Linked DNA regions of Homo sapiens: all the other regions are reported to be linked to region 1. The links are microRNA targets in miRTarBase. Many come from high-throughput screens and were not tested one by one. Region 1 holds a microRNA gene; each other region holds the end of a gene's coding sequence.
The links. The annotated mature microRNA hsa-miR-5581-5p reads AGCCUUCCAGGAGAAAUGGAGA and lies in region 1 at 1,500-1,521, shown strand. An mRNA with a match to its seed (bases 2 to 7 or 8) in the 3' UTR can be bound and repressed. Matches are read on the target gene's strand: a 7mer-m8 pairs with bases 2 to 8, a 7mer-A1 pairs with bases 2 to 7 and ends in A, and an 8mer does both.

Region 1 (3,096 bases):
GCCCCCCCTTTTTTTTTGTACAGTCACTGTAGTTTTTTTTGTACATCACTGTAGATTACATTTAATAAAAGCAAACTCAATAACAACTTGTGTAAACATATATATTTTTAAGACTATAGATCAGGCACAGTATCTCATGCCTGTGATCCCAGTGCTCTGGGAGGCTGAGGCAGGAGGATGGTTTGAGGCCAAGTGTTCAAGACCAGCTTGGACAACACAGCCAGACTCTCATCTCTATAAAAACAAAAACTGCCCTTAGAGCTGTTCTCTCTGGTTACATTGTTTCAGATTACATGCTTTTTCAGGACCTTTGGTCACTTGGATCCTTTGTATGTATCTTCTCTGTCAACATGTATCTTCTCTGTCAACATGTATCTTCTCTGTCAATTAGAGGATAGGGAATGGTTTTTTTCTACCTATTAGTGTTCATGTTGATGGACAGATTGCCTGAGGAGTACTGATGATGCATTTGGAAACTTGTGTTTTATTTCCTTCAGGGGAGCCAGGAAGTGGGACGGAAAGTGACACTTCTCCAGACTTCCACAATCAGGAAAATGAGCCCAGCCAGGAGGACCCTGAGGATCTGGATGGATCTGTGCAGGGAGTGAAACCTCAGAAGGCTGCTTCTTCTACTTCCTCAGGGAGTCACCACAGCAGCCATAAAAAGCGAAAGAATAAAAACCGGCACAGGTCAGTGGCAGGGATCCCACCCCCGCAGCTCCCATGACCATTGCTGTGAAGGGAATTGCCTAGAATAAAAACTCTTTAGGATTGCTGCAGACTCTTTCTGTTGCTGATGGCAAGAAAGTCATTAGGTCCAAGTGAACGGGCTAATTTGCTCAAAGGGAGGAATTGGTGGGCATTAGAGTAACCCTCAAGGAAGACTCCAGGACATTCTTCTCACTGTTTCTAGTGTAGAATAGTTTTATTCCATAAAAACCTTGTTTCATATGGTGAATATGGAATACTTTTAGAAGAGGAAAAGGAGAAATAGAAATGGAATCTGTGTAATAGTATTTGAAAAATGCCACTGGTACTTATTGGGAAGCTGTAAAGTGGGATAAAGTCTTCTGCTGGTAATTCTGATCTTTGCCTACTCTTATTTCTTTGTGGATGGAGAGAACTGATTTGACATGCCTTTTTTTCTCTTTAAATACAAGTTTTTTTTATTGCTTGTGATTTTTCTGTTTCTGTATTTCTCAGCAATATGCTGACTTCAGATACTGGAGGAACAGTATAAAGCCTGTAAAATATGAGAGTGTCTTCATAGGTAACGTGTAACATTGGTGCACCATGTTTTTTTGCAGTACATAATGAGATAGGAATGACGTCAGTGGACAGAGAGGCCAGGTGTCACCCAGAGAGGGTTTCAGCATTCACTCTGCCTGGGGTTTGTATGATCATGCTGGGGATTGTTAACTCAGATAATTGGAAATTATGCAGCTTGACCTAAAGAGTATAATGTCCGGTTTCTAGAGTAAGGAGTTTTGCTGGCCTCAAGCCTTCCAGGAGAAATGGAGACCCTATACATACCTGTTTCCATGCCTCCTAGAAGTTCCGAAGCCAGGGTAAGAGTTCTCATTCTAGAAACTGTACATTCGTTCTACTCCTCCTGGAAGACTGCGTGCTGAGCAGGTGAAAGGGGGCAATGCAAGGGATGGGTGGCATTCCCTGTTCTCCAGTTTGCTTCTGGATTTGGTTTACAAATCTGTAGGGTATTCCTTCATGCACCCAAGGTATTAAACTTGTTAGCTTCATGGATATGACAGTGCCTGGGGGTAATGTAGGATTAACTCTACCTGATTTGAACCTCCTTGATTGGCGTCAGCTGGTTCTTCAATTATTTTAAGAGTTTTTCTTGTTGATGGTAATGGTGTTTTCTAGACTGCAGAAATAGTATTTCCTTCAAATAATGACTGAGGACTGCTGCTTAACATTTTTCTGCAAACCAGAAGTCACCATCCTAATCGCATAACTGTAGTAAGAATTAGCAAAAATTGTATATCTACCTCTTCATATATTTTTGAAAGGCTATAGGTTATTTGACCAACTGTAGTAAGACTGGTGCTAGCTTATCACGAATAACAGAGAAATATATTCTTAAAAATTTTTTTAATTGTCAAGATAATTAAATGTCATGCTCTGTATTGCTTTTATTAAATTTACTCCAGTGTCATTTTTTTTTAATTTTTTATTTTTTTCAGACAGTCTTGCTCTGTCACCCAGGCTGGAGTGCAGTGGCACGATCTCAGCCCCTGCAGCCTCTGCTTCCTGGGTTCAAACGATTCTCCTGCCTCAGCCTCCTGAGTAGCTGGGATTACAGGCGTGCACCACTGTGCCCAGCTAATTTTTGTATTTTTAGTAGAGACACGTTTCACTGTGTTGGTGTGAACTACTGGCCTCAGGTGATCCACCTGCCTCGGCCTCCCAAAGTGCTGGGATTACTGGCATGAGCCACGGTGTCTGGCCTAGTGTCATTTTAAAGTAGTGATTATTTTCTTATTTCATAGTGTCTAGAGTAGGGAGGAAACTCTTTGAAAGTTTCGGGGACTTTTTCCCATTACTGATTAATAGTCTGTAGATAGCTGTTTATTTCAGGTAGTTCTTCATTTCCACTAATGATGTTATTAGCTGGTGACTGATAAAAAGGAGTTAAAGAGGAGCTAAACTTCATTTTCTTCTTGCAAGTTTCTAGCACATTTCCATAGGAACAATACTTCTTCCTATCCTAGGAGCTATCTCCTTCCAGAAAAATAGTAGTAGTTGTAAAAATCTTCGATATTAGTTACTGCTTCGCAAATAGTGTTTTCTGTTTGGAAAGCAGAATCCTGCTTTTTATTGCTGTCCTTTTGTCTTCCCTCTGATTTAATATCTGGCTGATCTCCCTTGGCCTTAGGCACTCATCTGCCCCAAGAAAGGAGAGTGAAGCTGATTTGTTTCCTTTCTAGGGAAGCAAAATTCAGTGTGCCTGAATGGCACACGAGCGGTCAGTTAAGGCTCTTGGACTCCTGCCATCTTTAGTCAGGAATTGTGTCTGCTCCAAGTCCCTTACTACTGCTGACTGATATCTCAGTAGGGCTGGCAGATTGGGGTGGG
Region 2 (3,000 bases), not on the chromosome of region 1:
TTTGAGCGTAGCCTGATCCTTCATCTTATTTTCTCAGGCATAGCAGTGTCCATAAAGGCCCTAACAAAGACTTGGATGCCCCCAGAGATGGGGAGCTCACCAGTCTATAAGGCTTTCAGCCTTCTCCAGTGCAGGCTCTCTGCACAGAAATGGGGCTCCTGCCACTCCCAGAACACCCTTCACTGGCCTGTGTGGGGTCCTCAGACCACCCTTCCAAGTTCCCAAGCCAGCTTTGTTGGCTGGTCCCATAGTCATTCCCCTTGGCTGTTCCTGCGTCTTCTGACTGTGTCCTCTAGATGCCCTCTGGACCATGAAGTTTTTCTGGACAAATGGCTCAGGGCAGGACTCAGAGCTGGCAATGAGTGATGTGTGGTCTCTCTTACCTCCTCCCTATCAGGAACACAGCCAGGACACAGACGCGGATGATGGGGCCTTGCAGTAAGCAGGTACAGGGGTCCTGTCCTGATGGGCAGAGGGTGGGGAATCAGTGAAGTGGAGGTTGTGCCTTTTCCCTGGATTGGGCAGGAAGTGTCACGAAGCATACCTGGCCAAGTAGCACTGACTATACCCAAGAATGAAGTCCCCTCCATATCTAGCCATCCCGTCACACCCCTTCATGCTTGGGGCTTGCCATGCTGAGGAAGCAGGTGCCGTAGATGGGCCAGGCGGGCCCACCTAGCAAGGGTTCCTTCCCTCAGCACACTCAGCCATGTTGCCTGTCTCTGCCCTTGAGGAGCTCCTAGTCTGGTAGAGGAAGACATAAGCCATTACCACCTAGTGTGAGCAGGATAACAATAGAGCGAGGCCAGGTCATGGAAGAGATGATGTGTAGCTGAGCCTGCTAGTGATTGAGGGAGCAATGTTCCACACCAGGGGAATGGCCTTAGCCATACAGAGCTGTGACAGTCCTTGGTATGTGGTGAGGCCAAGAGCCTCCTGTGGCTGCAGTGCCCCCCTAGTTGGTAGAGGACTCTGCTTATTGTCAGAGGGTGATGATTGTGAAGGGCCGTATGTGTCAGGCTTAGGGGCTGGGATTTGATTCTTTCATGGGGAGGAAATGCCCTGTGTGACAGGAGCTGCACCTGCTTTCTCTGAGTTCATCTTCAATCCCACAAGCTGATGATTGTACCAATATAATAGATGTGGAAACAGACACTAAAGGGTGCAGGGAGATAAGGTAGTAGTTGGTGGAGCCTGGATTTCAGCCCAGTGGTGTGTGGCTTCAAAGCCCACTCTCTGGCCACTGTTTACCATCTACTCTGCCCTACCTTAAAGGAAAGCCAGGCCACACCTGGCTGTGCCTACTACTCTCTGACCCATTCCCTTGGGGTGGCTTGGGTGGAGGAAGGTCTCAAACACTAGTGTTTCCAGGGAGGTGTCTGGATAGATGACACATTTATGCTGTAGTAAGATATCCCACCAGCAAAGGCTTCCAGAAGAGCTTTAGAAAATTGTACATATGCAGTCTTCTTTTGGAACTTCTTGGTTTGTTTTGCCTGGGATGCAAACAAACCTCCATATCCAGCCATCCTGCTACACCCCTTTGTGCCTGGTGCTTTCCAAAGCTTGTTAAAATAGTTCACAGGTGAGTTATATGGGCTCAGGTGAGGAAATGGAGGTTCAGAGAGCGGGTGAGACTTGCCCAAGGTTACATGGCCAGGAAATTATGAGGCCACAGCCAGAGTGCAAGAATCTCTCTGTCTCCAGACATCATTCCACCCTTTCTTCCCTACCCCTTTTATCAGCAACAGGGTCTCTTCCTCTCAGCCTTAGTCTCTTCTTTCTCTCTCTCTCTTTCTCAGCCTGACAGGAGCAATGGCCACCAGCAGGTGAAGGGCATCGCTGCCCCAGGCCTCAAGCCGGGCACCCAACCCTGGATGCCACCCCCCAGCGGGTACCAGAGGAAAGCTGGCAGCAGGCGCCTCCTCCCCCAACGCATCCCAGCCAGTGCCATGTCCTCTGCAGGTGGAGTTACTGGCCTACTCCTTCCCCATGAGCCCTCCCTGTCTGCACTGCCCAGGCCAGAGGGTAGAGCACAGGGGTTTCCCCATACTACCTCCCCTCCCCAGGACACTCCCAGGCTTGGGTTTTTTCTATAGGTTTGGCGGGGGGCCACAGGGAGGGGACCCTGACAATAAAGAGATTGGATCCCAACCTGTTCTGAGATGGGATGGTTTGTGTTTTCTCATGAAGATATCCCGGCCCCTCTGCCAACCAAAAAGCTGGTCTAGGGTGCCTAATACTGATCCATCTGGACCTTAGTGTCCTCAGTGGTGATTAAAATGGCCAGTGGGGCCACTGGGGAGGGTTGGATATGCTGGCCCATGAGCATCTTGCTGGCTGAAGTGTCAAGCAGTTGTGACCCACTTGGTTTACCCCATAGTAGGTCAAGACCTTATCTCTTTCCCCAGCTTCTAAGTCTGGTCTTTCCCAGCTCTTAAAAGGATTCTAGAGTCTGCCAGTCTCTACCTTCTCTCTTCTGGCTTAGGACACTATAATTTTTTCATTTGGACGTTGTCCTCCCACCAGCCTCCCAGTCTTCTGCCTCTGCCCTGTACCATCTCCCAGCAGCCACGCAGTCTTTCTGAAACGTATCCCTTCCCTGCCTAAAATCCCTTTACTGACTCTTCATCATCAGGACAAAACCCTACCTCCTGAATGTAGGGTGTAAGATCCTGCTTACTCCAGCCTCTCCTGTTTCTTGTCACCACCCCTTTCCTGCCCCTGACACAAACCCTACATCTCAGTCTCACAAAACACACAAGTTCTTCACACTCCGGGCAGGTTTGGTAGCAAGGAATAGAGCGTACTCCAGTGACAGCAATCAGTAGGAAGTTTGCATCCGGAGACACGCAGCCTGTCTGCCCCTGTCTTGGGCCACCCGTCTAGACATTTGTTCTCTAACAATCAGCCGGGTTCCTTCAAACGTGTGCTGCTTATACATGCTCATTGTGTACTGCTAATGTCACCTACTTCCCCCTTCATTCCCCACAATGAATG
Region 3 (3,096 bases), not on the chromosome of region 1:
GACCATCCTGGCCAACGTGGTGAAACCCCTTATCTAGGAAAAATCCAAAAATTAGCCAGGCATGGTGGCAGGCACCTGTAATCCCAGCTACTTGGGAGACTGAGGCAGGAGAATCGCTTGAACCTGGGAGGCAGAGGTTGCAGTGAGCTGAGATGGCGCCATTGCCCTCCAGCCTGGGCGACAGAGCTAGACTCCATCTCAAAGAAAACAAACAACAACAACAAAGCAAATGTGGTTTCGGGAAAATGTGACTGCAATGGTAACTTTACTGATTGGAGCAGGCACATTTTGTGTACTTTGTATTAAAACTCATGTAATGCCATGCTTGTTACAGTGACATCTTGCACACATGCTGTTTTTCAGGAGTTGTATCCCGCATTTTGTATTCACAACGGAGGCTCCGACCTTGAGCGGCTCCCCACAGCCAGCACCTGCATGAACCTGCTGAAGCTCCCCGAGTTCTATGACGAGACACTTTTGCGAAGTAAACTTCTCTATGCGATTGAATGTGCCGCTGGCTTTGAGCTGAGCTGAAGCTGATGCTGGGGTCAGACCCCTACAGAGAACCAGTGCTTCCTTCGTCAGCAGCGCCTCCCCAGACCCACGAGGATACTCACACTGCACGCCTGAGGCTCTCCTAAGCTCCTTCTTTCATTCTGCCATTCCTCCCTCCCTTCCTTTTTTAAATGATTTTTATTACGGTGTGGTCACTTATTTAGATGGACATTGCTTTTCAAATAACTTAAAATAACACGTTATGTGCCATGTGGCTACTTTAGTAATATTGCCAAGAAGAGCACAGTTTTTACACTAGTGGCATCTCAGTGAAATTAACCAAAGATGAAGCTTTGGCTTTGCTGGTGAGATCAGAGCCCTCCTGAGCAGGCAGCGCCACTCCAGGGTTCAGACAGGGCTGCACAGGCGGCAGAGATACAGGGTCTGAGGGCTGAGACGCCATGGGGCCGCTGCTGCTTATGTGGTTGGATTGTTTACAAGCCTCATTATTAAAACTGAAGGCATTTTTTTTTTCTGCTGCCTTTCCCAAAGTGGTTAGGTTTGGAAAAGAGATGATGATGGTAATATTTTATTTGTGCTTTTTAAGCCATTTCCCCAAATGGGACTAGCATGCTTGTTTTCAGTATACCGTGGCCTGCCTCATGATGGTTTGGAGATACTGTCTGTGGATGTGAGGTGGGGACTTCATTCATTGTCCTATTTCTATCTCCACTTTGTGCCTGGAGAGCTTTCAGGGGAGGTGGAGGAGGAGGGTCTGCCAAGCTACTGCAACATCTGTCACCCACTATACCCAGTTACTTGGGGGAGGACAGACACTGTGGTGTCATTAAAGTTGTTTGAACCAAAGTGGCGGCTGCATCTTTGTCCCGATGCTAGCCGTGCCGGTCTCCCATCATCCGCTCGCCCTCCTTTCCCCTGGGCTGCGCCCACTTGTCTTCCTGGATATTTGGGGGTGACTCGCCATGCTTGGCACCCTCTGCTTCCTGGTGCTGCTCTGACTCGAAGACGGGACAGTCCCTGGTGCACATCCAGGGAAGAGGAGTGTCGGTAGTTCTTGCAGTAGGCACTTTATCAGGACCTGACCTGTTGCTGGGTGATTTTAGTCTCTACAAACAGAAAGCGTTTCAAAGCGTCAGCTGTGGGAGCAGAGTGACCCTTTGCTGATGCTGGGGGGAGGGGATCTAAATCCTCATTTATCTCTTCTATGTCTCGTATTTTACTGTCACTGGAGGCTCTGTGGGCTGTCATAGTTAATTGACCATAATTAGCAATATACTTTTAAAGTGGGAAAGCTGAATGACACTTTTAAGACAATGAACATTATCAAAACAAAATGTATAATTTCTTAATTTGAATAATAAATTAAGCGTTTAAATGCTATTTGTAGTCTTGATATACAGAAATAAAATAATTAGGGTTGGTCTTTTTTATTTTAGGTTGTTTTATGTTGAATGTTCTATATCTTATTAGTTAATTTGTATATTTTATTAGTATTTTGGAAATAGCATATCTGAGACTGAAGAGAAATTGACAATTCACTTATTTGTGGTTTTTTTCTCAGCTATTCTGAGCTTATTTATTTATTTGTATGTTCTAATGGCTAAACATTTACATTAAATGTTTTTTTTCCCAAGATTGTGTTGGAGTCCTACCCCAAATCATTGTGATTAGCACAGCTTCTGAATGTTACTAGTTTTATCACAGGTGTTTGCATGTCACCAGCTAATGGAGTATAGTAAGATGGCCTACACTCACTGAGAATCAGAGGTCCTCGGGAGGATGCCTGTCATCAGGGGTGGGCCGAGCGTGGCTCCCAGGCCGGCGGCCGGTGTGCTCCTATCCGACCAGCCACGGGTGTTGGCTTCCCGAGTCTCCCATTGGGTCTGGCATTAGTTCTTGAAAAATTTCTGGAGGAAGATTCTTTGTTCTTTGTTTTGTTTGCCCTTTTCTACGTTCTGTCCTACTTTCTGCTTTCTGGTAATTTTGTACACAAACCTAAATGTTGACTTGGGGTTATTGCAGATACTTCTCATGAGGTGTTATCTGCAGAGAGATCTTTGTTTTGGTATCCTGAGCTCGTTAAGGCAGCTTTATCGATTGCAGTGGTTTACAGGATGGTGTGTGCTTTTGCGGAGTGTGGGAAACCAGATACTGCATCCCTGCCCATCGTGAGCCTGCAGTCTACACTCTATGTATCCCTGCCGTTGACATGCAGGCCTCCAGTGGTGGAACTGGGAGCACGGGAAAGGCTGTGGTGGGGTTAATGACTCCTTCCAGGAACTTCCTGAGGAGGTGAGTGGTGAACCTGAAATAATTGAATACGTAAGCTTTCTCATACTTGAAAGAAATAAACAGCCAAAGGCATATGGTAACTCAAATAGAAATTCAGGGCATGCTCAGCTCTTTCAGATCCACCTGCTCCGGGTCAGCAAGCATCACAACTAGCAGGGTAGTCTAGGAAGTGACGCAGCCACCCTGTGCATCCCTCACAGAACAGCAGGTTCACCTGGAGGTTTTTCTAATGAGAAATTACCTAGACTTCCCAAACACGGGCTGAATGCTGGAGTGCTACACTGTGGC
Region 4 (3,096 bases), not on the chromosome of region 1:
GCAAACCCCCCTCACCTGCCTACAGGCCGCTCTGGGCTCAGGCAGCCTCCCTTGTCCTCCAGGCTCAGAGCTCTCTTCCTTAATGAGATACCAGTCATGGACCAGTTCATGAATGACTACGTGGAAGAAGCCAACCGGGAAATTGAGAAGTATAACCAGGAGCTGGAACAGCAGGAGTATCATGACCTCTTTGAGCTGAAGCCCTAGAGGAAGGCTGGGCCCGTACGTCCTGCAGAATGTCCACCTTGGAGATGGACGAACGGGTGTCTTAACCTCAGCTCTGCTGGAGGCCTCTCCCTTAAGGGGCTGTCTTTGTTCTCCTTGGCCTGTGTGGGCTGGCTTGAGTGCATGTTGTCTTTATTCCCTGTATAGCGCTGAAGAGCATCACCTGCACCATTGATTTTGGGGGTCGGGGGAATACTCAAGGATGAGCAGATGGGGCCTGCCCGTCTACGTGTGCAACTGGCAGTCCAGGAGCTCTGGGTTTCTGATAACAGGATCTCCTTTGGGCTCTTGAGGTTGGGGAGAAGCATTAGGATTACACAGAGGAGCTACTGGGACTTAGAAGGAACCCTGGCTGCCTGAACTGTGGCCGTGTCTGGGAGGCGAGGCCACGACAGGCCTCAAGCCTCAGATGCTGCTCCACGAGAGCCATCTTCCCCAGTGGAGTGCCTGCCTCCCCTGCTAGGCCCGTTTCCCTGAAGGAGCTGGCCGTACTGGCCGTGGGCCCAGTCCTGGGAGGAGCAGCACAGCCTTGCCCAGGCCCAGTCCACAGAGCCAGCAGCTTGGGTTGAGATGAATGATGTGTTCACAAATGAGGGGATTTCCCTTCTGGACTAAACTGAAGGAGAGGCTTGTTGCTTTCCAGAGGTGTGTGGCTCTTAAGTTGACATCAGCTTTTCCCCTTGTGGGTGGTTCTTTAGCTCTCCTGTCACACCATTCGGGTGTCCTAATGTAGGGACAAGAGCAAGCCTGCTGCTCAGGCCCCCTGGCGAGGCTTCACCTCACTGTGGAAGGGGGCGTCCTGCAGCTGGTTAGTCTTAGGCCTGGTGGCTGATCACTTGTGGGGTCAGTCTCCAGCACCCAGCGCTCCCACAAGCCTTGCCAAGGAAGGCCTGCTTTTCAGCCACAAACTTCAGGAAACTCATCCCCCCGCTCCCCAAAGTGTTGTTGCTGGCCCTGGGCTTGTGTGGCTCCTGAGGATTGGGAATTTCAAATAATTGCAATACCTGAGTTAGAATTCCTTCTAATGGCATCGTTTTAAGCTGGACCATAAAGCAGAGGGGAATTACAAGTGTGTCCCATGCCTGACCTTCATAATTGGTGTGGGGGACAGGGGAGTCACAGCCACTGATATTTAGGTGATGTCTCTTAGGACTTCAGTGCCTCAGCTGCCTGAACTGTAAATGTTTTCTGAATTTCACATATTTTTTTTTGCATGCCTTAGGAAGAAGCACATAGGTAAAACCAGCAGTTTCCAGTAATATAGGGGGTTTTTGAGCAAGGCCCCTGGAGCAGCGGAGAGACAAGATGGAGCACATGTAGTCTGTGTGCCTGGTCACACAGAGGCCTGCATGCAAGTAGCAAAGCAGCTCTCAAGGGCTTGTCAGTAAAATATATTAGAAAAAAAAAAAAAACAATTTGAAGCCAAATGAACAAAACTCCAGATACCATTGATAAGAAATTTTGCATCAAGAAGGGCTTCTGAAAAGACCCACGTGCTCCAGTCCCAGCTCCAAAAGCCACTGATGACAAGGGCCCCACTGTGGAACCTAAGTCTGGGAGCCCCCTGACTTCTGGCTGGCCAGAGGCTGCGGTCCGTCAAGGGCTTGCCTCGCTTCAGAATCAGTAACATAGATCTTAAGTGCAATTGATTAATAAGCAGTGAGTTACTGTAGCTTCCTTTAGCTCTACCGAACTCTTTTTAAAAACTCAAACTTGAGCAGCCTTAGAAAAGGGGTTGGGGGGTGGGAACCACAGGCCATTTCTCTAAGTGGGCTGCTGTGAAGTTTTAAATGAAAGCTCTAGCTTTAGGAGCTTGAGCCATTTCCTGACTGCACTGGCCTGGCAGTCTGGCTGCTGCAGAAGAGTTTTTAAAGAGGGGTCGGAGCCCGCCCGTGAGAGCGGGTCTTCTCACCATGTGGGGCTGTACTACGTGGTGGTCTTTGTTTCTCTTCACAGAAATGCTCTCTCACCAACTTGCCCCACTGTCCCAACTCCTCTCCTCTTAGAGAAAAAACTGTGATTACCTCAACTTGAATATGAAACTGTGATTGAAAAAAGTCAAAACGTGAAGAAGCATCAAAGCCAAAAAGGCAAAACTGGCTGAGGCCTCTGTTGATGCTCCTCAGCCTACTCGGGAACGTGAAGGGGCAGCTGGCGAAAGGGCATTCCTGGGGCCACTTGCTCTGCCCCACTGATAAGGCACACCCGCGGTGCACTGTGAGCTCTTTGAGGACTGAGGCCAGGGGATGCCTCCTGGAACCTGCCAGGCCTCTCTGTTCTGTGAAGGTCAGTATCCACTTGATTCCTCCAGGCGGCGCTCCAGGTGGGAGGAGCAGGGTCTTCTGCTGTTTCCAAAGGAATGGCCATGACACTGCTTTTGACCTTAGAAGTGGATCCAGGGACCCAGCAAAGAGCGGGGGTGGGTTCCCAGGGACAGGCAGTCCTCCCGGGGCTTACATGCTTTTTGCTAACTTTCCTATTAGCAGCTTCAGTTTATATCACCCAGAGTGCGTGGGATAATGTTGAAGTCGCTGAAGTTACGGGTTATTTTATGTTTTTACATGGGATTTTTCTGTTTTTGATTGGAAGAAGGAGACAGAAATTGGAGGAAATGGGATTATTATCCTAGGGAAGGGCCGTTGGCAAGGAGTTGAGCCGGCCCCTCTGAGCCCTGGGGGCTATCTGACCTGAAGCCTGGACACTGGGCCCTTCAGGTCGCAAGAAAAAGTTCCCTCCTAAATTCTATTAGGATTTTGGAGAATTTTTGCACAGTAAGAAGCTCTGGGTTGCTCCTTGGGCTTCTCAAAAGGGAAAAGTTCAATTCAAAGATTGTAAACTACGAAGTATTCCAGCCGTGTTGCTGATCTAGTT

Region 2: the mRNA of RALY is a reported target of hsa-miR-5581-5p. The part of its 3' UTR that is shown has no 7-base or 8-base seed match.
Region 3: miRTarBase lists UBE3C as a target of hsa-miR-5581-5p. Seed matches in the 3' UTR shown: 7mer-A1 at 1,013-1,019.
Region 4: miRTarBase lists DNAAF9 as a target of hsa-miR-5581-5p. Seed matches in the 3' UTR shown: 7mer-m8 at 209-215 and 7mer-m8 at 1,109-1,115.

The regions. Positions count from the first base shown.
Region 1 is chr1:37,499,398-37,502,493 of GRCh38, reverse strand. It overlaps MIR5581 (microRNA 5581), which reads left to right and starts at 1,500; the gene lies at 1,500-1,559. MEAF6 (MYST/Esa1 associated factor 6) reads left to right here. Exons shown (of 7, transcript NM_001270875.3): 5 at 498-690.
Region 2 is chr20:34,078,108-34,081,107 of GRCh38, forward strand. RALY (RALY heterogeneous nuclear ribonucleoprotein) reads left to right here. Exons shown (of 10, transcript NM_016732.3): 9 at 398-446; 10 at 1,803-3,000. The coding sequence ends at 442. Among named protein-coding and RNA genes, the nearest start is that of MIR4755, 30 kb to the left of the region's middle.
Region 3 is chr7:157,267,222-157,270,317 of GRCh38, forward strand. It overlaps UBE3C (ubiquitin protein ligase E3C), which reads left to right. Exons shown (of 23, transcript NM_014671.3): 23 at 364-2,149. The coding sequence ends at 534. Among named protein-coding and RNA genes, the nearest start is that of DNAJB6, 68 kb to the right of the region's middle.
Region 4 is chr20:3,249,683-3,252,778 of GRCh38, reverse strand. DNAAF9 (dynein axonemal assembly factor 9) reads left to right here. Exons shown (of 37, transcript NM_001009984.3): 37 at 95-3,096. The coding sequence ends at 207. Among named protein-coding and RNA genes, the nearest start is that of SLC4A11, 12 kb to the right of the region's middle. RefSeq lists an enhancer at 1,996-2,496.